5 separate regions of the Homo sapiens genome follow, and regions 2, 3, 4 and 5 are each linked to region 1. Evidence: fine-mapped expression QTL. A gene starts in region 1. Each other region holds a variant in brackets. All regions are shown on one strand. Distances are between the middles of the regions. Region 1 holds the start of TIGAR (TP53 induced glycolysis regulatory phosphatase). Region 2 overlaps FGF23 (fibroblast growth factor 23). Region 3 overlaps TIGAR (TP53 induced glycolysis regulatory phosphatase). Region 4 has its middle 28 kb from the start of FGF6. Region 5 overlaps TIGAR (TP53 induced glycolysis regulatory phosphatase).

The links. PIP is the estimated chance that this variant, and not a neighbour inherited with it, causes the effect.
Region 2: its variant is the best candidate, but not a certain one, in a credible set for the expression of TIGAR in neural progenitor cells (Aygun 2021, PIP 0.87).
Region 3: its variant is the best candidate, but not a certain one, in a credible set for the expression of TIGAR in pancreas (GTEx, PIP 0.55).
Region 4: its variant is the best candidate, but not a certain one, in a credible set for the expression of TIGAR in tibial artery (GTEx, PIP 0.74).
Region 5: its variant is the best candidate, but not a certain one, in a credible set for the expression of TIGAR in whole blood (INTERVAL, PIP 0.73).

Annotation. Positions count from the first base shown.
Region 1 is chr12:4,318,807-4,323,190 of GRCh38, reverse strand. TIGAR (TP53 induced glycolysis regulatory phosphatase) reads right to left here and starts at 1,978. Exons shown (of 6, transcript NM_020375.3): 1 at 1,888-1,978. The coding sequence starts at 1,919. RefSeq lists a silencer at 1,888-2,267 and an enhancer at 1,733-2,386.
Region 2 is chr12:4,364,965-4,369,348 of GRCh38, reverse strand. It overlaps FGF23 (fibroblast growth factor 23), which reads left to right. Exons shown (of 3, transcript NM_020638.3): 3 at 1-1,122. Among named protein-coding and RNA genes, the nearest start is that of FGF23, 13 kb to the left of the region's middle. The variant C/G (reference allele first, on the strand shown) is at 2,582.
Region 3 is chr12:4,345,438-4,349,821 of GRCh38, reverse strand. TIGAR (TP53 induced glycolysis regulatory phosphatase) reads right to left here. Exons shown (of 6, transcript NM_020375.3): 4 at 1-3. Among named protein-coding and RNA genes, the nearest start is that of TIGAR, 26 kb to the right of the region's middle. The variant G/A (reference allele first, on the strand shown) is at 2,310.
Region 4 is chr12:4,415,963-4,420,346 of GRCh38, reverse strand. No RefSeq gene overlaps it. Among named protein-coding and RNA genes, the nearest start is that of FGF6, 28 kb to the left of the region's middle. The variant G/A (reference allele first, on the strand shown) is at 2,191.
Region 5 is chr12:4,356,394-4,360,777 of GRCh38, reverse strand. TIGAR (TP53 induced glycolysis regulatory phosphatase) reads right to left here. Exons shown (of 6, transcript NM_020375.3): 6 at 750-4,384. Among named protein-coding and RNA genes, the nearest start is that of FGF23, 21 kb to the left of the region's middle. The variant T/C (reference allele first, on the strand shown) is at 2,461.

The sequences.
Region 1 (4,384 bases):
TGATCCAAGTGATCTTCCTGCCTCAGCCTCCCTATTAGCTAGGTTCACAGGCATGCACCACCACAGCCAGCTTTTTTTTTTTTTTTTTGTAGAGAGGAGGTTTCACCATGTTGCCCAGGCTGGTCTTGAACTCCTGTGCTCAAGGGATCCACCCACTTCCGCCCCCCAACGTGCTAGGATTACAGGGGTGAACCACCTTGATGGTCTGAGTTTCAATTATAAATATGACACTGGGCTGGCTGGGTCAGGCGTCTAGAAAGTGCACTAACATTGGAAGAAAGGGTGATCAGGCCTCTAGTTCCTGTTCTGCTACCGATTAGCTGTGTGACCTTTAGTAAGTTAAGAATTCTCCCAAGGCATTCTATACAACCGAGAGGGGTGGGAGAAGAGATAGTGAGGAACTAGATTTCTAAGGTAGCCATTAAAATCCTGCTAATCCTAAACAGACAATTTTAGAGGATTCTTAAGATTATCTTTCTTATAAAGGAAGGACAGGCCAGAAAAGATAGCTGTTAAAGTCAATTGACAAAGTTAAATCATATTAATGTCCTTTGTGAGCTCCATGAATGCAGAAATGGTATGTTATTTATCTGTATGATCCAGTCTACTGGCACACATTACCTACTCAAAATGCTGGTGTGCTGAACTATACGTTCGTATTTGGGAATCAACTGCACTTTTATTGGAGCTTTCTTTATAGAAGTTATTTCTCAGATATATTTCTTTCCCTGTTGCATCATACACTTTACCTGTCCCCCATTTAATTCTCGCATTAAAGTAGTGAGATACGCACTATCATTTGCATATCAGGAAACTTAAGTCCAGGCTACCTGGCTCTTAGCTGGAGAACAGACTCCAACCGAGGTCTACCTTGCCTGAAAAATCTGTGCTCTTAGCAGGGCGCGGTGGCTCATGCCTGTAATCCCAACACTTTGCGAGGCCGAGGTAGTCGGATCACTTAAGGTCAGGAGTTCCAGACCTGCCTGACCAACATGGCGAAACCCTGTCTCTACTAAAAATACAAAAATTAGCCGGGCGTGGTGGCGCATGCCTGTAATCCCAGCTACTCGGGAGGCTGAAGCAGGAGAATCGCTTGAACCCCGGAGGCGGGAGGTTGCAGTGAGCAGAGATAGCGCCACTGCACTCCAGCCTGGGTGACAGAGCGAGGCTCCATCTCACAAAAAAAAAAAAATAAAAATAAAAATCTGTGCTCTTAACTACCCTGATTTTCACCTCCCGTTAACACTTGGCAAATACATAAAGACCTATCAGCATGCAGCTCCGTGTAACGTTATGATAATAAAAACATTTATTTGGGATGATACGGTCTGCTGAGATCAGAGCTGTGATCCTCTTTTCTCTCCCAGAACTGTAACCTCTGGGGAAAAGAAAGAAGTCTCATATATGTGCCTGGGGGGCTGACTGCCTGGGGAAACGAGGGGGAACCTCAGAAACTGAGAGGATAGCGGAAGGCAGCCGGCATCAAAAACATCAGCCATGGACGAGCAATTCTGCAAACTCTTTGCAATCTGCTGGGGAGCAAAATCGGTACCCAGACAAGTCTGTGGACATGTCTGGCACCGTTTTTGGTGCAGCCACCAAGTGCCTACGAACCCCGATCCCTTGCTCCTCCGGGCCTCACTTTATCTGAAACACGGAACGAAGCTATCTAAGACCTGCCGTCGTCCCTCGGGGCTGCTGGGGTGAGAGGAGGGGCGACACGGGACGGCCCCAGGGCAAGCGCCCCGGAAAAAGCGCTTCCAAGCCAGCCCTCCCGGGCTGGAGCGAGCAGGGAGGGGAGAGGGTGGTGGACCCGTTTTCCCTTCACCCGCTCCAACACACTCAAGGAAGAGAGAGAGAAAGACATCCTGCCACAGCCATACTCACTGCCGGACAACAGTCAGAGCGAAGCGAGCCATGTTCCCGGAGCCGCGTCCCGTCGGTGGCCCCGCGCCGCGCTGCCCCTGCACTGCGGGCTACCTCCCCCACACCACTTCCGCCAAGCAGCCGGCCGGCTCCGCCGCCATAGGCCGAGGCGGCCTCGCACGTCATCCCCGAAGGCCACTCAGGGCCGGGCGAGGCCGACGGGGCGGGGGAGACGAGGGAGCCACGGGGGCCCCGCCCAGGGCTGCGGCGCTTGCGCCCCTGCGCGCCGGCCTGTGATTGGCGCGCGGCAGGTGCGGGAGGCCCCGCCCGCGGAGTCCGCGGTAGGATTCCTTCCCTCGATAGCCGGCAGCCTGCGTTCGGGGCAGATAAGGAAGCCGGCGCACTGATTTGTGGTTGTTGCGATTGAGGCTGGAATGCAACCGTTCGTCTTATAGCTGGCCACTGTGATGAACCCCTCACGGGTGTACAGCGACCAACAGACTGTGTTCTATGAGGTCTGTTAGTCCCTAACCTTAGGGACGTAGCGTCGGCCAGGTCTGTAGACTTAGACCCACCCACCCCAACTCCGCCGGGACAGACGCCCTCCGTGACCAAACTTTAGTCGGGCTCCTTTGAGGCCTTTTCTATACTAGACGGCATCCTCGGCCTGCTGAGCCTGGTTTTACCAAAGAATCCTGCTAAGCCTGTTTATCAAGAGAGACCTCACTGTTGATGCTCTCTTCTAAGGCCCTTGATATCTAGTAAAGTTCCTCCTCCCCCTCCCCCAGATAGCTTACCACGTTCTGGTAATTTCCCATCTTCTCTTTCATCCCTTCCATCCCGCCCCCTGGCTATAAATCTCCACTGGTCCCGGTTGTATTCTAGAGTCGAATTCAGTCTCTCTCACCTATTGCAGTAGTCTTGAGTAAAGTCTTGCCGTTTTTAACAAGCCTCAGATGAATAATTTCTCTTTAATAGCCTTCAGAACGTTGAGGGAGTTGCTTCATGTTAGATATGAGTTCTAAATTTCTTTTCAAAGAATCAATATGTCAGTATGTTCAATTCTTTGCTTTTTACTTTTAAACTTAACTTCCTCCTAAAGCAACCTTCTCTTTTTTATTTATTTATTTATTTTTTTGAGATGGAGTCTGGCTCTGTCACCCAGGCTGGAGTGCAGTGGTGTGATCTCGGCTCACTGCAAGCTCCGCCTCCCGGGTTCACGCCATTCTGGCTCAGCCTCCCGAGTAGCTGGGACTACAGGCGCCTGCCACCACGCCCGGCTAATTTTTTGTATTTTTAGTAGAGACAGGGTTTCACCGTGTTAGCCAGGATGGTCTCGATCTCCTGACCTCGTGATCCGCCCGCCTCGACCTCCCAAAGTGGTGGGATTACAGGCGTGAGCCACCGCGCCCGGCCACAACCTTTTTCGATTACCTGCTGCACTCTGACTCCTTCCCATTACCTACTCCACCCTGACTCCTTCCCATTACCTACTCCACCCTGACTCCTTCCCATTACCTACGCCACCCTGACTCAGATTACCTGCTCTGTCATAACTGTTTTTCCCGCCAAACCACTCACCCCCATCACTCTCTTTAGATTAGCCAATCGGAATTAGTTTAGCCTGTGCGGTGGGGCACTACACAGCAGCAGGGGCCACGTGCGTCAGGGATAAGAACCCCTTCCCCTCCCTTGTCCAAGTGTGCGCTCACCATTGCTCCATCTGTAAGGACGCACCCTTCTATAGAAGTACCTTGCCTTGCTGAGAATTAAAAAGAAAATTTTATATTCGAGTGCTATTTCTTTTGTGGCACTGAAAGTTTATTTATAACATGAGCTTCTCTAACCCTGGGTTTTGTGACAGGTAAACTGGGATAGCAGTACCTAGCAATGTGACACAAGTAACAATAATGTTAGCTAGGTGACATTGTCTTCCATGCACTGTTACCTAAATTCTTGTATTTCATAATGCATTTATTTCCTTGAATCCCCACTTATATATGAAAAGATGTGTTTAGAGAAGAGATGAATGAGATACTTAGATTCATAGGCACACATTTCAAAACAGTCTTACATGTAATATCACATTTGGCCTTCTGAACAATTCTAAGGTAGACAGGATAGGCTACATTATCTTCACTTTAGAGATGAGAAATATGGCCGGGCATGGTGGCTCACGCCTGTAATCCCAGCACTTTGGGAGGCCAAGGCAGGTCAGGAGAATCTGCAGGTCAGGAGATAGAGACCATTTTGGCTAACACGGTGAAACCCCATCTCTACTAAAAATACAAAAAATTAGCCGGGCATGGTGGCACGTGCCTGTAGTCGCAGCTACTAGGGAGGCTGAGGCAGGAGAATCGTTTGAACCCGGGAGGCAGAGGTTGCAGTGAGCCGAGATTCCAACACTGCACTCCAGCCTGGGTGACAGAGCAAGACCCCATCTCAAAAAAAAAAAAAAAGAAATATGGCCGAGAGAGAGACAGCGATTTGTCTAGGCTCACACAACTGGTCAGCGGTG
Region 2 (4,384 bases), 46 kb before region 1:
GGGCTTTGAGAGACTGGGACTGCTCTGGGTTAGGTTTTCTGTGGACTGAAAAATCGTGTCCTTTTCTCTAAATGAAGTGGCATCAAGGACTCAGGGGGAAAGAAATCAGGGGACATGTTATAGAAGTTATGAAAAGACAACCACATGGTCAGGCTCTTGTCTGTGGTCTCTAGGGCTCTGCAGCAGCAGTGGCTCTTCGATTAGTTAAAACTCTCCTAGGCTGACACATCTGGGTCTCAATCCCCTTGGAAATTCTTGGTGCATTAAATGAAGCCTTACCCCATTACTGCGGTTCTTCCTGTAAGGGGGCTCCATTTTCCTCCCTCTCTTTAAATGACCACCTAAAGGACAGTATATTAACAAGCAAAGTCGATTCAACAACAGCTTCTTCCCAGTCACTTTTTTTTTTCTCACTGCCATCACATACTAACCTTATACTTTGATCTATTCTTTTTGGTTATGAGAGAAATGTTGGGCAACTGTTTTTACCTGATGGTTTTAAGCTGAACTTGAAGGACTGGTTCCTATTCTGAAACAGTAAAACTATGTATAATAGTATATAGCCATGCATGGCAAATATTTTAATATTTCTGTTTTCATTTCCTGTTGGAAATATTATCCTGCATAATAGCTATTGGAGGCTCCTCAGTGAAAGATCCCAAAAGGATTTTGGTGGAAAACTAGTTGTAATCTCACAAACTCAACACTACCATCAGGGGTTTTCTTTATGGCAAAGCCAAAATAGCTCCTACAATTTCTTATATCCCTCGTCATGTGGCAGTATTTATTTATTTATTTGGAAGTTTGCCTATCCTTCTATATTTATAGATATTTATAAAAATGTAACCCCTTTTTCCTTTCTTCTGTTTAAAATAAAAATAAAATTTATCTCAGCTTCTGTTAGCTTATCCTCTTTGTAGTACTACTTAAAAGCATGTCGGAATATAAGAATAAAAAGGATTATGGGAGGGGAACATTAGGGAAATCCAGAGAAGGCAAAATTGAAAAAAAGATTTTAGAATTTTAAAATTTTCAAAGATTTCTTCCATTCATAAGGAGACTCAATGATTTTAATTGATCTAGACAGAATTATTTAAGTTTTATCAATATTGGATTTCTGGTCATTCTAACCCTAAAGTGTTTTCTTTCTTTCTTTCTTTCTTTTTTTTTTTTTTAAGATGGAGTCTTGCTCTGTCACCCAGGCTGGAGTGCAGTGGCGCGATCTCGGCTCACTGCAACCTCTGCCTCCCAGGTTCAAGCGATTCTCCTGCCTCAGCCTTCCAAGTAGCTGGGATTACAGGCACCTGCCACTGCGCCTGGCTAATTTTTGTAATTTTAGTAGAGACAGGGTTTCACCATCTTGGCCAGGCTGGTCTCGAACTCCTGACCTCGTGATCCACCCACCTCAGACTCCCAAAGTGCTGGGATTACAGGCATGAGCCACCGCACCCAGCCGTGTTTTCTTTAAAGAGGGAATTTTTATTTGGAAAATACACACCATCACAACCACGTCAGTATCTCAGTAAACCAAATGCTATGCACTAAACACATACACAGTGTTACCGTCCCGTGAGATTTGATAGCAGGACACCAAGATAATGAATCTACATTCTGAGACTGGTGTTCCCAGAGTTCCTTCTTTCAGAAGGAACTATGAAAAGGAGAGACTTTACATATGGGCATGAGCATTCACTACAGGTCCTTCGCCAAAGACTGGGTAGCACATGCACGAGGTAAGATACGGTGAGTCCTACAAAGGTCACCTGCTACAGCAGCAGGAGATAGATAGTGAGTGATACCAGATGCTATGCAATGTTGAAACACGTTAGAAATTCAACCACACCTGGGTGAAGAGACCTTACTGAGTGCCTCAGAACTCAAAAGGCTGTTCTTATAAGACTAAGCCCCAGAGGCAGGGGGTATATCCTAAAACTAAATTCAAAACTGAAACAGACTTGCTCTAAGTGAGAATTATACCAATCCTGGCAAACTACAAGGATCTACCAATAATGTAACTGACCGCCAGAAGAGAACTTAACACCTTTTAAAGGAAGAGGACATGATTCAGACTTAATACATGGTATCCTACACAATCAGTAATAGTAAAATAACTGGACATGAGAAGAAATAGGAAAAAAACATGTGCACAATCAAGAGAAAATGCAGTCACTAGAAACTAGTAAGGTGATCTAAAGATAGAGCTAATATAAATTATCTTATCTGAGTAACAGAGAAGAAATAAGTTTTTTGAAAATGAGTAGAACCTCAATGATCTGTGAGACCTTATTAAGCTGTCCAACATATGAGTAAGTTGAGTCCCAGAAGGAAAGGAGCACAAAGAACTGGGGAGTAAAAAATATTTGAAGATATGGTGGCTGAAAATTTCCCAATTATTGGTTAAAAATAAGTGTACTAATACAAGAAGCTCAGAAAACTCCAAGCAAGACAAATGCAAAGATCACAGTTATGTATATTGCAGTCAAACTGTTAAAAATCAAAAATCAACAGAAAATCTGAAAGCTACTGTAGACAAATGACACTTTATATATAGAGGAACAGCTATAATAGTAGTGGATTTCTT[C/G]TCATAACCATGGAAACTAGAAGACAATGGAATGATGTATTGAAAAGGTTGAAAGAAAATAAAAAGCTACCTACCCAGAATTACACATACAGCAAAAATGTCCTTCAAAATTAAGATGGAATAAAAATGGAGAGAAATTATTGCCATGCTGAAAAGGAGTAACACCAGATGGACATTTAGAATTACAGAAAGAAAACCATCATTAAATGTGTGAATACATTTAAACTATATATATTGTATACCTTCTTCCCTGATTTCACTAACAGGCTGCTTAAGGCAAAAATTATAACACTGTATGCAGGTTTTGTAACATATATAGATGTAATATATAAGGCAAAACTCCCACATAGGATGGGAGGGATAAATGAAACAATATGGTTACAAGATGATAACACTGTATGTAAAAATCTTACAATATTAACTCTAGACTGTGATAAATTAAGGATGCATATTGTAATCCCCAAAGTGACCACTAAAATACTCACAATAAGAAGTCAGGAGTGGTGATATGCACCTGTAGTCATAGCTACTCAGGAGGCTGAGGCTGGAGAATCACTTGAGCCTGGGAAGCGGAGGTTGCAGTGAGCTATGATCGTGCCACTGCACTTCAACTTGGTGACAGAGTCAGACCCTGTCTCTAAAAACAAAACATTTAAAAATAATAATAATTCAAAGAGGTGTAGGTAAAAAGCCAATAGAGATATTAACATAGGATACTAAAAAAATTCAGTTATTCCAAGGAAGGGAAGAAAGGAGGAGCAGGAGAATAAAAATCAAATGGGACAAACAGAAAAATGATAGACTAAACCAAATTATATTAATAATTACATTAAATATAAATGGGCCAAACACTATAACTAAAGACAGGAGTGGTCAAATTGGATTTAAAAAACACCCAACTATTTGTTTTGTACAAAACACATACTTAAAGAAAAGAATGGAAAGATACACAGTGAAGACATTCAATATAAAAAATATGAACTTACTATATTAATATCATAGAGAATAGGCTTCAAGTGAAGGAATACCGCATAAATAGAGGAACAATTCATAATAATAAAAGGGCTAATTCATCAGGAAGACGTAAAAATCCTAATGGCTCATGTCCCTAAAAACAAAGCAATAAAATACATGAAGAAAACTGACAAAACTGAAAAAATAGACAAGTTCAAATCTTAGTTAGAAATGGGAACACCCCTCTCTCAGTAACTGATTAAACAAATACACAAAAAATTAGTAAGGATACAGATATCTGGACATCATTAACTAACTTCATTTAGTTGACATGTGTAGACCACTAAATCCAGCAACTACAGAATACATTCTCTTTCTGAGTACAAATTAAACATCCATCAAAACAGATCATATGCTTGGCTGAGAAGTCTCAATTAACTAAAAATTTCAAAATCTTACAGAATATTCTCTCCTACCATTTAATTGGAAATCACCAAGCTATTTGAAAAAAATCCTCAAATATTTTGAATCAAATAGCACATTTATAAATAATACATGAATCAAAGAGCAAATCAAAAATAGAAAGTACATCTAACTAAATGACAATAAAAATACAACATACCAAAATTTATGATACACAGCTAAAGCAGCACTTAGAAAAGCTCTATATTTTAAAAGCTTATATATAAAAAGAGAGAAGGTTAAAATCAACCTAAGATTATTCATTAAGACTCTAGGAGGACATAAAAAACAAATTAGGTCCAAAATAAGTAGACAGAAGATATAAGAACAGAAATCAATGAATTAGAAAAGAGACAAAAAACAGAAATGTTGGTTTCAAGAAAAAAT
Region 3 (4,384 bases), 27 kb before region 1:
GGTCTGAAAATCAAGACAATTGTTTCTTTCTTTATAAAAATAATCACCATTCTGGTGGAAGCACTGAAAGAATCTATGTCATCTTAGTGAATAAAAAAGAACTAGAACCAGGCACGGTGGCTCACACCTGTAATCCCAGCACTTTGGGAGGCTGAGGCGGGTGGATCATGAGGTCAGGAGATCGAGACCATCCTGGCCAACATGGTGAAACCCTATCTCTACTAAAAATACAAAAAATTAGCCGGATGTGGTGGCACGCACCTGTAGTTCCAGCTACTCGGGAGGCTGAGGCAGAAGAATTGCTTGAACCTGGGAGGCGGAGGTTGCAGTGAGCTGAGATTGCGCCACTGCACTCCAGCCTGGGTGACAGAATGAGACTCCATCTCAAAAAAAAAAAACAAAACTAGAAATGATTTTCCTTTGCAAAAGTTGCCTCTCTGTGTACATCTGTGTACACATCTGTGTCTCTTCATTCCTGATTTTGATATTCTCTTCTAACCTATCTTTTAGTTCAGAAGTCAGCACAATCCAGACCATCATCTGCTTTTGCAAATAAAGTATTTTACTGGGACACAGCCACAGCATTCATTCATGCACAGTTGATGGCTGCTTTCTTGCTATTACCGCAGACTTGAACAGGTGTTAACAGAGACTGTATAGACTATAAACCCTAAAAAAAAATTACTATCTGGCTCTTTACAGAAAATGTTTACTAATCCCCATTCTAATTCCTTAATTCGCCATTCAAATGTGTCTAAATTGTTGTTAAACCCATCCATTGAGCCTTAATTCCAATTGTATTTTTAGTTCTAGAATTTGCATTTGGCTCTTTTTTACAGTTTATTACAGTTCTGTACTGAAATTCTACATCTTTCACCTATACAAAAATATAGTTATTTTAAAGCTCATGTCTGGTAACTCCATCGGGTAAGTCATGTGGCTGTTTCTGTTGTCTTTAGCTCATTTTTATTCACATTTCCTTCTCTCATTGTAAGTCTAGCAATTTTTGATTGACAAGCGACCCTGTCACATAGAAATAATTTAGGTCCATGATCTGCCTTTTTTAAAAACACATTTCCCAACAAATTAGACATCATCATCATACTGTTTTATATGTACTGTCAATATTTCCTTGTATTTTCCTAAACCTTTACCAACTTCTTTGCTCACTATTCTTTTCTGAAACTCAGATCTCCCTTCTGCAATTATTTTCCTTCTTTTTCATTTTTCCTTTCAAAGTTACTTCAGAATCTCTTTGTCTGAAATGTCATTTCACCTACACAGCAGAAAAAAATCTTGCTGGGTATAAAACTCTAGGTTAATCCTTGTTATTTCTCAGCACAATAAAGAAATCATCAATATGAACAAATTTGCTGACAGCCTAACTAATGGTCTTTAATAAAGGATGGTTTTTTCCTCATTCTTTGGAGTCTTGCAATTTTGCTATAATGAATGTAGATATGGGTTTCTTTACTTATCCTGGTTGGGATTTGGTACACTTCTTGGATCTTTCAACAATTCTGTAAATTCTGTAAAATTGTCAATATTCTGTAACCTCTGAATATCACCTCTTCCTCCCATTCTCTCTGCTATCTCTTTCTGAAAGACATTAGAACTTCTCATCATGCTCTTCATGTCTTCTAATGTCTCCTATTTTATTTATTTTTTAAAGGGACTTTTTTTTTTGAGACAGGGTCTCGCTCTGTCACCCAGGCTGGAGTGAAGTGACACAATCACGATTCACTGCAGCCTCAACTACCTGAGCTCAAGTGATCCTCCCACCCCAGCCTCCCAAGTAGCTGGGACTACAGGCAAGTGCCACCACACTCAGCTAACTTTTTTATTTTCTGTAGAGACAAGGTCTCCCTATGTTGCCCAGGCTGGTCTCAAACTCCTGAGCTCAAGTGATCTTCCCGCTTCGGCCTCCCAAAGTGCTGCAATTTCAGGCATCAGCCACTGTGCCCAGCTAAACTCTCATATTTTAAATCTATCATGCCGTGCTACATTTAGGTTATTATCATATATTTATCTATAATGATCACTTCAGCCGTGTGTGATCTATACTTCAGTACTTCCACTGAGGTTTTCATTTTTTGGCTTTTTTCTGTTTGTATTTTAATTTTTAATTTTTGTGGGTATACAGTAAATGTATATATTTATGGGGCACATGAGACACTTTGATACAGCCATGCAATGCATGACAATCACATCCTGGTAAGCAGGGTATCCATCCCCATAAGCATTTATCCTTTTTGTTACGAATGATCCAATTATATCCTTTTAGTTATTTTCAAATGTACAATTACATT[G/A]TTATTGACTATAGCCACCCTGTTGCGCTATCAAATACTAGGTCTTATTCATTCTTTCTTTTTGTACCCATTAACCATCCCCACTTCCCCAACACCTCCCCCTACTACCTTTCCCAGACTCTGGTAACCATCCTTCTACTCTCTATCTCCATGAGTTCAATTGTTTTAATTTTTTGCTCCAACAAATAAGTGAGAACATGACAAGTTTGTCTTTCTGTGCCTGGCTTACTTCACTTAACATAATGACCTCCAGTTCCATCCATGTTGTTGCAAATGACAGGATCTCATTCTTCTCTGTGGTTGAAAAGTACTTCATTGTTTGTGTGTGTACATTTCCTTTATCCATTCATCTGCTGATGGACATTTGGATTATTTCCAAATCTTGGCTACTGTAAAAAGTGCTGCAATATGGGAGTGCAGATATCTCTTCAATATCCTGATTTCCTTTCTTTGGGTACATACCTAGCAGTGGAACTTCTGGATCACATGGTAGCTCTATTTTTAGTTTTTTGAGGAACCTCCCTCCAAACAATTCTTCACAGTGGTTGTACTAATTCACATTCCCACCAACAGCATACAAGTGTTCCCTTTCCTCCATGGCCTTGCCTGCATGTGTTATTGCCTGTCTTTTGGATAAAAGCCATTTTAACTGGGGTAAAATACTCATTGTAGTTTGGATATGCATTTCTCTGATTACCAATGATGTTGAGCACTTTTTCATATGTCTCTTTGTCATTTTTTTTTAATATATATTTTTTATTATACTTTAAGTTCTAGGGTACATGTGCACGACGTGCAGGTTTGTTACATATGTATACATGTGCCATGTTGGTGTGCTGCATCCATTAACTCGCCATTTACATTAGGTATATCTACTAATGCTATCCCTCCCCCGTCCCCCCATCCCACAACAGGCCCTGGTGTGTGATGTTCCCCTTCCTGTGTCCAAGTGTTCTCATTGTTCAATTCCCACCTACGAGTGAGAAAACGCGGTGTTTGGTTTTTTGTCCTTGCCATGGTTTGCTGAGAATGATGGTTTCCAGCTTCATCTATGTCCCTACAGAGGACATGAACTCATCCTTTTTTATGGCTGCATAGTATTCCATGGTGTATATGTGCCACATTTTCTTAATCCAGTCTATCATTATTGGACATTTGGGTTGGTTCCAAGTCTTTGCTATTGTGAATAGTGCCGCAATAAACATACATGTGTATGTGTCTTTATAGCACATGATTTATAATCCTTTGGGTATATACCCAGAAATGGGATGGCTGGGTCAAATGGTATTTCTAGTTCTAGATCCCTGAGGAATTGCCACACTGTCTTCCACAATGGTTGAACTTGTTTACAGTCCCACCAACAGTGTAAAAGTGTTCCTATTTCTCCACATCCTCTCCAGCACCTGTTGTTTCCTGACTTTTTAATGATTGCCATTCTAACTGGTGTGAGACGGTATCTCATTGTGGTTTTGATTTGCATTTCTCTGATGGCCAGTGATGATGAGCATTTTTTCATCTGTCTGTTGGCTACATAAACTTCTTCTTTTGAGAAGTGTCTGTTCATATCCTTTGCCCACTTGTTGATGGGGTTGTTTTTTTCTTGCAAATTTGTTTGAGTTCTTTGTAGATTCTGGATATAAGCCCTTTGTCAGATGAGTAGATTGGAAAAATTTTCTCCCATTCTGTAGGTTGCCTGTTCACTCTGATGGTAGTTTCTTTTGCTGTGCAGAAGCTCTTTAGTTTAATTAGATCCCATTCGTCAACTTTGGCTTTTGTTGCCATTGCTTTTGGTGTTTTAGTCATGAAGTCCTTGCCCATGCCTATGTCCTGAATGGTATTGCCTAGGTTTTCTTCTAGGGTTTTTATGGTTTTAGGTCTAACATGTAAGTCTTTACTCCATCTTGAATTAATTTTTGTATAAGGTGTAAGGAAGGGATCCAGTTTCAGCTTTCTACATATGGCTAGCCAGTTTTCCCAGCACCATTTGTTGAATAGGGAATCCTTTCCCCATTTCTTGTTTTTGTCAGGTTTGTCAAAGTTCAGATAGTTGTAGATGTGTGGTATTATTTCTGAGG
Region 4 (4,384 bases), 97 kb before region 1:
GCATTACTGCATGTCATGGGAGGGCTGGCAAGGAAATATACACAGGGATGAGATAGAGAATAACCTTGGATAAATAAATCACTTAAGCTCGTTCTGCCTCTATGTCTTCATCTCTTAAGTGCAGCTTATATTCCAGCCCTGCCTACCAAGCAGAATCAGTGTGTAGATTCAAATGAGATGATACGCTGGAAAGAGTTGTGTGAAGTGTAAATCACTTACAGAAGTCTGAATGAAAATGGATTCTTGGCTTGGCGCCATGGCTCACACCTGTAATCGCAACACTTTGGAAGGCTAAGGCAGGCTGATTGCTTGAGCCCGAAAGTTCGAGACCAGGCTGGGCAATGTGGTGAACCCTCGTCTCTGCAAAAAGTGGAAAAATTAGCCGGGTGTGGCGGCACATGCCTGTAGCCCAGCTACTTGGGAGGCTGAGCCCGGGAGTTCAAGGCTGCAGTGAGCTGTGATTGCACCACTGCACTCTAGCCTGGGTGACAGAGTGAGACCTTGTCTCAAAGAAAAAGAAAGAAAATGGATTCTTATGAGAATCCCTACTGTTCATGGATTCTTAGGAGATTAAATTTAAGGGGTACAAGCACGATTTTGTTAAATGGATATATTGCTTAGTAGCAAAGTCTGGGCTTTTAATGTATCCATAATGCAAATAATGTACATTGTACTCATTAAGTAATTTCTCATCGCCCAACCACCTCTCACTGTCCCCCTTCCAAGTCTCCAATTTCTATCAGTCCACACTCTATGTCCATGTGTACACATTATTTAACTCTCACTTAAAAGTGAGAACATGTGGTATTTGACTTTCTGAGTTGTTTCACTTAAGCAACGGCCTCTAGTTCCATCCATGTTGCTGCAAAGGACATGATTTCATTCTTTTTATGGCTGTATAGTATTCCATCGTGCACATGTACCACATTTTCTTTATCCAGTCATCCACTGATGTACATTTAGGTTGATTTCATATCTTTGTGCTATTGTGAATACTGTTACGATAAACATATGAGTGCCTCTATCTTTTTAATATAATGATTTTAGAAAATGGATTCCTAGTAAGATCTTTAGGGCCTTTGCCCTAGTGTTCCCTCATAGTCGACTCATCTGGTTTTTCCTGAGCCACTCCACACAGGAAGACAGAGTTATTTTCTGCCTTTCCTGGATCCCACTTCTTAGAATCATATGGAAAGATGAAAGGAAAAAAGGAAAAGGGAAGAAAAGGGAAAGGAAAGGAAAGGAAAAGAAAGGAAATGAAATGAAAGGAACATCTCTGTAAGGACTAGGCACTTTCAGCCCTGTTGCATCGGTGGATCTCGATGGAGCACTTCGGCAGTTCGGGAGGGTGTTTGGTTATCACAGTGACTGGGGATGCTGCTAGCATCAGTGAACAGAAGCCACAGATGAGAGGCATCTGCAACACAGAGGACAGTCTCCATCATGAAGAATTGTCCTGCAATTGCTCAGCTTTCAGAATGTCATGTAGGTAGAACACCTGTTTATAAATCTGAGCCTAGAATCAAACTGCTTTACATAAAGCAGAGAATGTTTTTCTCTGTCGCTTTAAAACGCAAAGTTTCCCAACGAGGGTATAAATCTAGGGAAGTCTGTATTTTGTGTGAAACCTTTCAAGCACAGTGCACCACTTTGAAAAACCCTAGCATGATAACCCGTCAGTTATCAGTACATTTGTAGCTCTCACAATCGCAGTGATTCTCTCACTATATGCATTTACACAGACATACCTAATCCTATCTCAAATGTCAAAAACGGCACATAATTTTTAGTGGAACACTTTCTTGCCATTCTTAAATCCAAATGTATTCATTACAACTAACTATGAGCATCTGAATCCTCCATTGTCTTAATGTGGCTGTGCCTGAGCATTTAGATCTTGAAATACAATCTTTTAAGTTACCTGCTCCCTTTTTTCTCTACAGTTAAGGCATTATATTAATTTTTTAAGTGATATGTGTAGGTACTATTATATTGACCATCAGTTTCACTTTAAATAGTAAAGATAGTGTTATAAAATATTTGTTATTAAAAGTGCAGTTTGGGGTGACGGGGAGAGAAGGACTGCAGTAGTTTGTTTAACTGGAGAAGGTCGAGCAAAAGCTCTCAGAAGCCCCTGGTGACGTGTGCCCACGGCAGATTGAGAACTCTCATTGAAATTGTTTACCCCAC[G/A]CCTCTCTGGCCTTGCTGCTTCCTTGTAAGGTCTGTCTGAGAAGCAACTAACTCTGTCTGGTCTGAATTTAGCAGAGCCTGGGCCCCTAAAGCAAAGATCAGGGAAGATGTCCTAACAGCTGCTGATAAAAATTCATATTCTATCCAAAAGCCCATATTAATCCATGATCCTCCTAGGCAGTGACTGGGGGCAGGGAAAGCCCCTAAATTACAAAGAATAAACAGTATTCTCCGGATGGTTTCTCCTGGGGACAGCGCACAGGGCTGTCGCAGCCAGTGACCTGAGCCCAGTTTCTGGGGTTAAATTTAAGTCCCCCAGGGACCCCTTCCCCCCATCTGGATCCCTCCAGTGATCTGTTCCTCACCCCTGGAGTCCTGGTTAGCAAGAGGATGCTGTATTTATAGAGCATCTTTCTGAGAAGAGCTCTAAGCTCTTTTCGGAGATTAGCTCATTACACGGGTTGGAGCGGGAGGAGGAGCAGCAGGAGGGCTGTGTGTTCCTCTCCCTTTAAGGCAGAGGAATGAGCCCCACATGGAGGCTGGGAGACTTGGGTTCCCTGAGCCTCTGTCTGCAGTGTGACCTCCACCGAGCCACATAAACCTCTCCCGCTCCTGGCTGGCGCTGAATGCCTGGCCCCTGCACCCTGGATGCTGAGCAACAGGAGAAGCCTGAGCTTCATGTGTATTTCTGTGTTTCTCATGTCCAGGGCAACCCGGGGGCGAGCTGGCTGCTGCTCTCTAGAGAGCTCTTTTAAGGACAGGGCAGGACCTCGAACTGAAATCTTTCTGTGTATAATTGTGATGAAATATGCATAGCATAAAATTTGCACTTTTAATCTTGTTTAACTCTGCGGTGTCGTGGTGTTGCCTATATTCACAATGTGGTGTAACCGTCACCACCATCCCTCTCCAGAACTTTTTCATTTTCCCCAACTGAAATTCTGCCCCATTAAATACTAACTCGCCATTGCCCCTCACCCCCAACCCCCGAAAACCACCATTCCGCTACCTGTCTCTATGAATGTGCGTATTCCAGGTGCTTCACATGGATGGAATGATGCGACATCTGTCCTTTCGTGTCTGGCTCATTGCATTTAGCACCATGTCATCAAGGTTGCCTGCTGTGGCAGCACACTGAATTCTTAGGTCCCTCTCTCCTTCCCTCCAACTGACAGGTGAAGCCAGCTGGGCTTCCTGGGTCCAGTGGGGACTTGGAGAACTTTTCTGGAGCTAGCTAGAGGCTTGTAAAACGCACCAATCAGACCAGGCACGGTGGCTCACACCTGTAATCCCAGCACTTTGGGAGGCTGAGGCAGGCGGATCACGAGGTCAGGAGATCGAGACCATCCTGGCTAACACGGTGAAACCCCGTCTCTACTAAAAATACAAAAAAGTAGCCAGGTGTGCTGGCAGGCACCTGTGGTCCCAGCTACTCCGGAGGCTGAGGCAGTAGAATCACTTTAACCCAGAAGGCAGAGGTTGCAGTGAGCTCAGATTGTGCCACTGCACTCCAGCCTGAGTGACTAAGACTCTGTCTCAAAACAAACAAACAAACAAAAAAAAAAAATGCACCAATCAGCGCTCTGTAGCTAGCTACGGGTTTGTAAAATGGACCAATCAGCAGGACATGGGCAGGGACAAATAAGGAAATAAAAGCTAGCCACCCCCAGCCAGCAGCAGTAACCCGCTCAGGTTCCCCTTCCACACTGTGGAAGCTTTGCTCTTTCCCTCTTCACAATAAATCTTGATGCTGCTCACTCTTTGGGTCTGTGCCATTTTTAAGAGCTGTAACACTCACCGCAAAGGTCCGAGGCTCCATTCTTGAAGTCAGCGAGACCACGAACCCACCAGAAGGAACCAACTCGGGACACACAACCAGACCCCAGACCTGAGACATGCCATGGTTTCTCGTGCACACACACACTGGGGAGAGAAATGTGGACTTAGCTTGGCCGCGTACTTTGAATTCCATGAAGTCTGCTCTCAGGATCCTTTACTGTGGATCTTCTCATACTCCTTGCGTAGGGCTGCAGATCTAGCAAATAGAAACACAATACCTGAATTATGGAATTTCAGATAAACAATGAAAAATGTTTTAGTACAAGTATGCTTTCATGGAATATTTGGTACTTATTTATATTTTTAAAAATTCATTCTTTTTCTGAAATTCAAGTTTCCCTGGGTGTCCTGTGTT
Region 5 (4,384 bases), 38 kb before region 1:
AAACTGCTCTAAAAAGTATATTTTTAAAAAATTTATGTGGAAATACAAAGGACCTGCAATGAGCCAAAACAACAACCACCACCCTGAAAAAGAACAAGTACATAGGTGACTTATACACTGATTTCAAGACTTGCTATGAATGTAGAATAATCAGGACAGTGTGATATTTGCATATGGATAGACAAAAAGATAAATGGAATTAAATAAGGAGCCCAGCAATACACCAACACTTACACAATAAGTTGAATTATGACAAAAGAACCAAATAAATTCAAGGGAAAAGAAAAGTCTTTTCAACAAATGCTGCTAGAACAATTTGATATCCAGGTAAATAACCATAAGCCTGAACCTGCTACCTCATACCACACACAAAAATTCCAGATGGATCAAGACCTAAATATAAAACTTATAAATCACAAATCTTCTAGAAGAAAACAGAGTCTCCATGACCAGGGGATAGACAAAAATTTCTTTGACAAAAAAAAAGCAATAATCATAAAACAAACACAATGGTAAATCAGTCTTATGAAAATCAACAACTTAAAAAAATTGATAAATGGTAGAATAACATATTTTATAATAAATATACAGACTGGAATAAAATTATATATATGTAGATACATGTGTATATATACACACACACACACACACATACACACATACATACACACACACACATCTGACAAAGAACTTGTATACCCAAAACATATAAAGAACTCCTACAACTCAAAAATAAAAAGATGACACAATTTTTTAATGGATAAGATTTTAATACACATTTCACAAAGAAAGCTGTATGAATGATCAATAAGAATTGTACATTAAAAAGCATTCCATATCACCAGTTAAAATTGCAGGGATATACTACCATACAACAATCAGAATGGCTAAAATTTTAGAAACTGATAATAACAAATGTTGGCAAGGATGTGAAGCACCTAGAACTCATTGTTGATAAGCATGAAATGGTACAACCACCATGGAAAAAGATCTGGCAAGTGTCTTATAAAACTAAACATACACCAACATATAACCTATAACTCAGCAATTCCACTCCCAGATTATTTACCCAAGAGAAATGAAAACATACGTCCGCAAAAAGACTTGTAAAAATATTTATAGCAGCTTTATTCATAATAGCTCCAAACTAGAAATGGTCCTTGTGTTCCGTCAATGGAAGAATAAACAAACTGTTGTGTATCTATGCATTGGAATTCAATGCAGTAATTTTTTTAAAGGCACTATTAGCAATGAGCACCCTGGCACCGAGATCTTGGTTTCTAAATACCATGCACACCAGGCGTCTTTCATTTCATTTCCAAAGAACCAGGGCTCTTTAGAGAAAAAGCTGATTCTGGGGCTGGGGCTCGGGAAGAATGAGTCTGGAGCATATTGTTAATACCAGAAAGAAAGTACTTAAAGAAGGATGAGATTATGTCACCAGAACATAAGAGCCAGCCTGAAAGGGTTCCCACAGGACAAAGTTGGGACTGTGTAACCATAAAATAATAAGAGTACTGTATTATAAGCCCCTGAATAAGAACTTCTGAGCTCATACTGACATAAATAAGTAGGCAAGAAGGGTAAAGCTGTCTTAGTACAGAATGCCAACTAATAAACATAGAAGCAAAAGTAGAGTCATGGCGTGAGTTGGCTAAAGAAAAAAAAAACAGAGTCAGAAAATAAACAATAAAGGCTAAAAGAGTAGTTGCAAATTTAATGAGGAACCAGACATATTGATACAACGTCCTGTCCCTCCTGACATGACCAAGGACACATCCTTTCTGGGCTGCTTCTGACAAAAGTATACAATCCAAATCTAATAATGAGGATATGTCAGGAAAAAAAACCACAAGAACTCACCTATTTTTTAAAAAGTAACAAGATCAAGAAAGACAAAGTTCATCTGGTTAGATAGATGGTGGGAGAAAAAAAGAAGGGCAAAGGAAGGCAAAGGAGTAGACGGAAGGACATGAAGAAACATGACAACTAAATGCAACACAACACACAGTCCTGGATTGATTGGATTCTTGATTCAGAAAAAAAAAAAAAGCCACAGGTACATCAACAAAATAATTGACAGAATTTAAATTTGGTCTAAGGATTAGCTAATAGGCAATATCAATGTCAAATTTCCTGACTCAGATATTTATTCTGGGTTATATATAAGAACATTGTTGATCTCAGGAAACACACATTGAAATTTTATAGGGGAAGAGTATGAGGACTCAAAGTTACTCTCCAATGTTTCAGGGGAAAACAGAGGGAGAGAGAAAAAATGGCAAAGCAAGTGGGACAACAGGTAAGCAAGTGGTGAATAAGTGTGAAGAGTATACAGCCATTCCTTCTACTGTTCTTGCAACTTTTCTGTAGGTTTGATAAATCCAAGATAAAAGATTACCAAAACACACGCACATACACATTACTGTAATTATTCTCTATGAGGATACAGTAGCTCAG[T/C]GATTTTTCTTTTTCTTTTTTTTTTTTTTTGGAGACGCCCAGCTAATTTTTGTATTTTTAGTAAAGACAGGGTTTCACCATGTTGGCCAGGCTGGTCTTGAACTCCTGACCTCAGGTAATCCACCCACCTTGGCCTCCCAAAGTGCTGGGATTACAGGCCTGAGTCACCATGCACAGCCCATTATTTATCAAATGATTTTTTTTTTTTTTTTTTGAGACCCAGTCTTGCTCTGTCACCCAGGCTGCAGTGCAGTGGCGCGACCTTGGCTCACTGCAAGCTCCACCTCCCGGGTTCACGCCATTCTACTGCCTCAGCCTCCCAAGTAGCTGGGACTACAGGCGCCGGCCACCAGGCCTGGCTAATTTTTTCTATTTTTCAGTGGAGACGAGGTTTCACTGTGTTAGCCAGGATGGTCTCTATCTCCTGACCTCGTGATCTGCCCGCCTTGGCCTCCCAAAGTGCTGGGATTACAGGTGCGAGCCACCACGCCCAGCCACCTCAGCGATTGCTTGGTCACAAAATTACTAAGAACCAGGCCTTGAACCTGAATCCAGGCCTTCTGACAATAGATCTTTCCAGTGTCCCTGCCCTGTCACTTATCAATGAAGAAATCACCCCCTTAGGCCATATTGCTGAACAATGAACCAAGTGATTGAGAACTGTGGGGGGAAATCCTAAAGTTTTTAAAGCACTGGTAGTTACCTGTCATGACGACCTACTTAGCCATCTTGTTTGGACACAAAGGAACTGACACATACTTCAATCTGAAAGCTGTACTTCCAAATTGATGGGGCCCAAAGAAAGAGGGGTAAAAAGCAACATTTACATGAAACAAGGATGTTTTCTAGGAGCCCCATTCAATTTCCAAACTGGTAAGTGCTGCGTCTGATAGCAGGTACTCAGCCCAGCACCACCGCTCTACTGAATACTTCTTTCCTTTGCATCTCCTGTGTCTGTGCTTAACAGGGCTGATAATTATGCCAGGTGGATTCACCTAGGATGATCTATTTCAATTAAATTGTGACTGACCTTAATATAGTGAAGACATATAATAGAACCATTTAACTTACACGAATTCATCTACTTGTAAATGTAATATGCATGCAAGTATACATAATATAAGCATATGTACTTAAGTGATATGGCCAAATATTGCACTTCCTGCATAAGCCTAAGCCATGGAATGGGTGTGAGATGCACTGTTCTCTCAGGGATATCTTACTTTATGTGCTTCCCCTAATATGAGCATGTCCTTGCTGAGTATGACATAGCATTTAAAGAAATTAGAATAAAGATGCTAACTAAAACAGGTTTTTAGTTAAAAAGCAATAAAGGAGAATCCTCATCCAAAAATGGAAATGAATAGTAGGTGAGTGAGGAGTGGGAAGGACAGGAAAATAAGAGACAGGTGAATGGGAGCCATGGTTTCGACTCCAGGTGCAAGGGAGCCTAAGCGACAGGCTCTGCTTGAAGCTGCGAGCCTGGGGTGAAGCCTGGAACTGGAAACTTCTGCCCATTCCCTCTGCTAGGCCTCGGACTAAACCTAACAGAAACAGGCAAGACAAGGTGGGAAAGATGAGTACAGGGAACACAGAGGACTTTTAGGGCAGTGAAAATACTCTGCATGATACTATAATGGTGGAATACATGTCTTCATACGTTTGTCCAAACCCACAGATCATGCAACACCAAGAATGAACCCTAATGTAAACTATGGGTTTCAGGTGATGTGGATATGTCAGTGTAATGTGGGCTCACCGATGGTAACAGATGCACTGGTCTGGTGGGGGATGTTGATAGTAGGAGAAGCAATGCGTGTGTAGGGGCAGGGGATAGATGGGAAATCTCTCTACCTTCCTCTCACTTTTGCTGGGAAATTAAAGTTTCTCTTAAAAAATTAAGTCTCTTAAAAAATTCATTTGT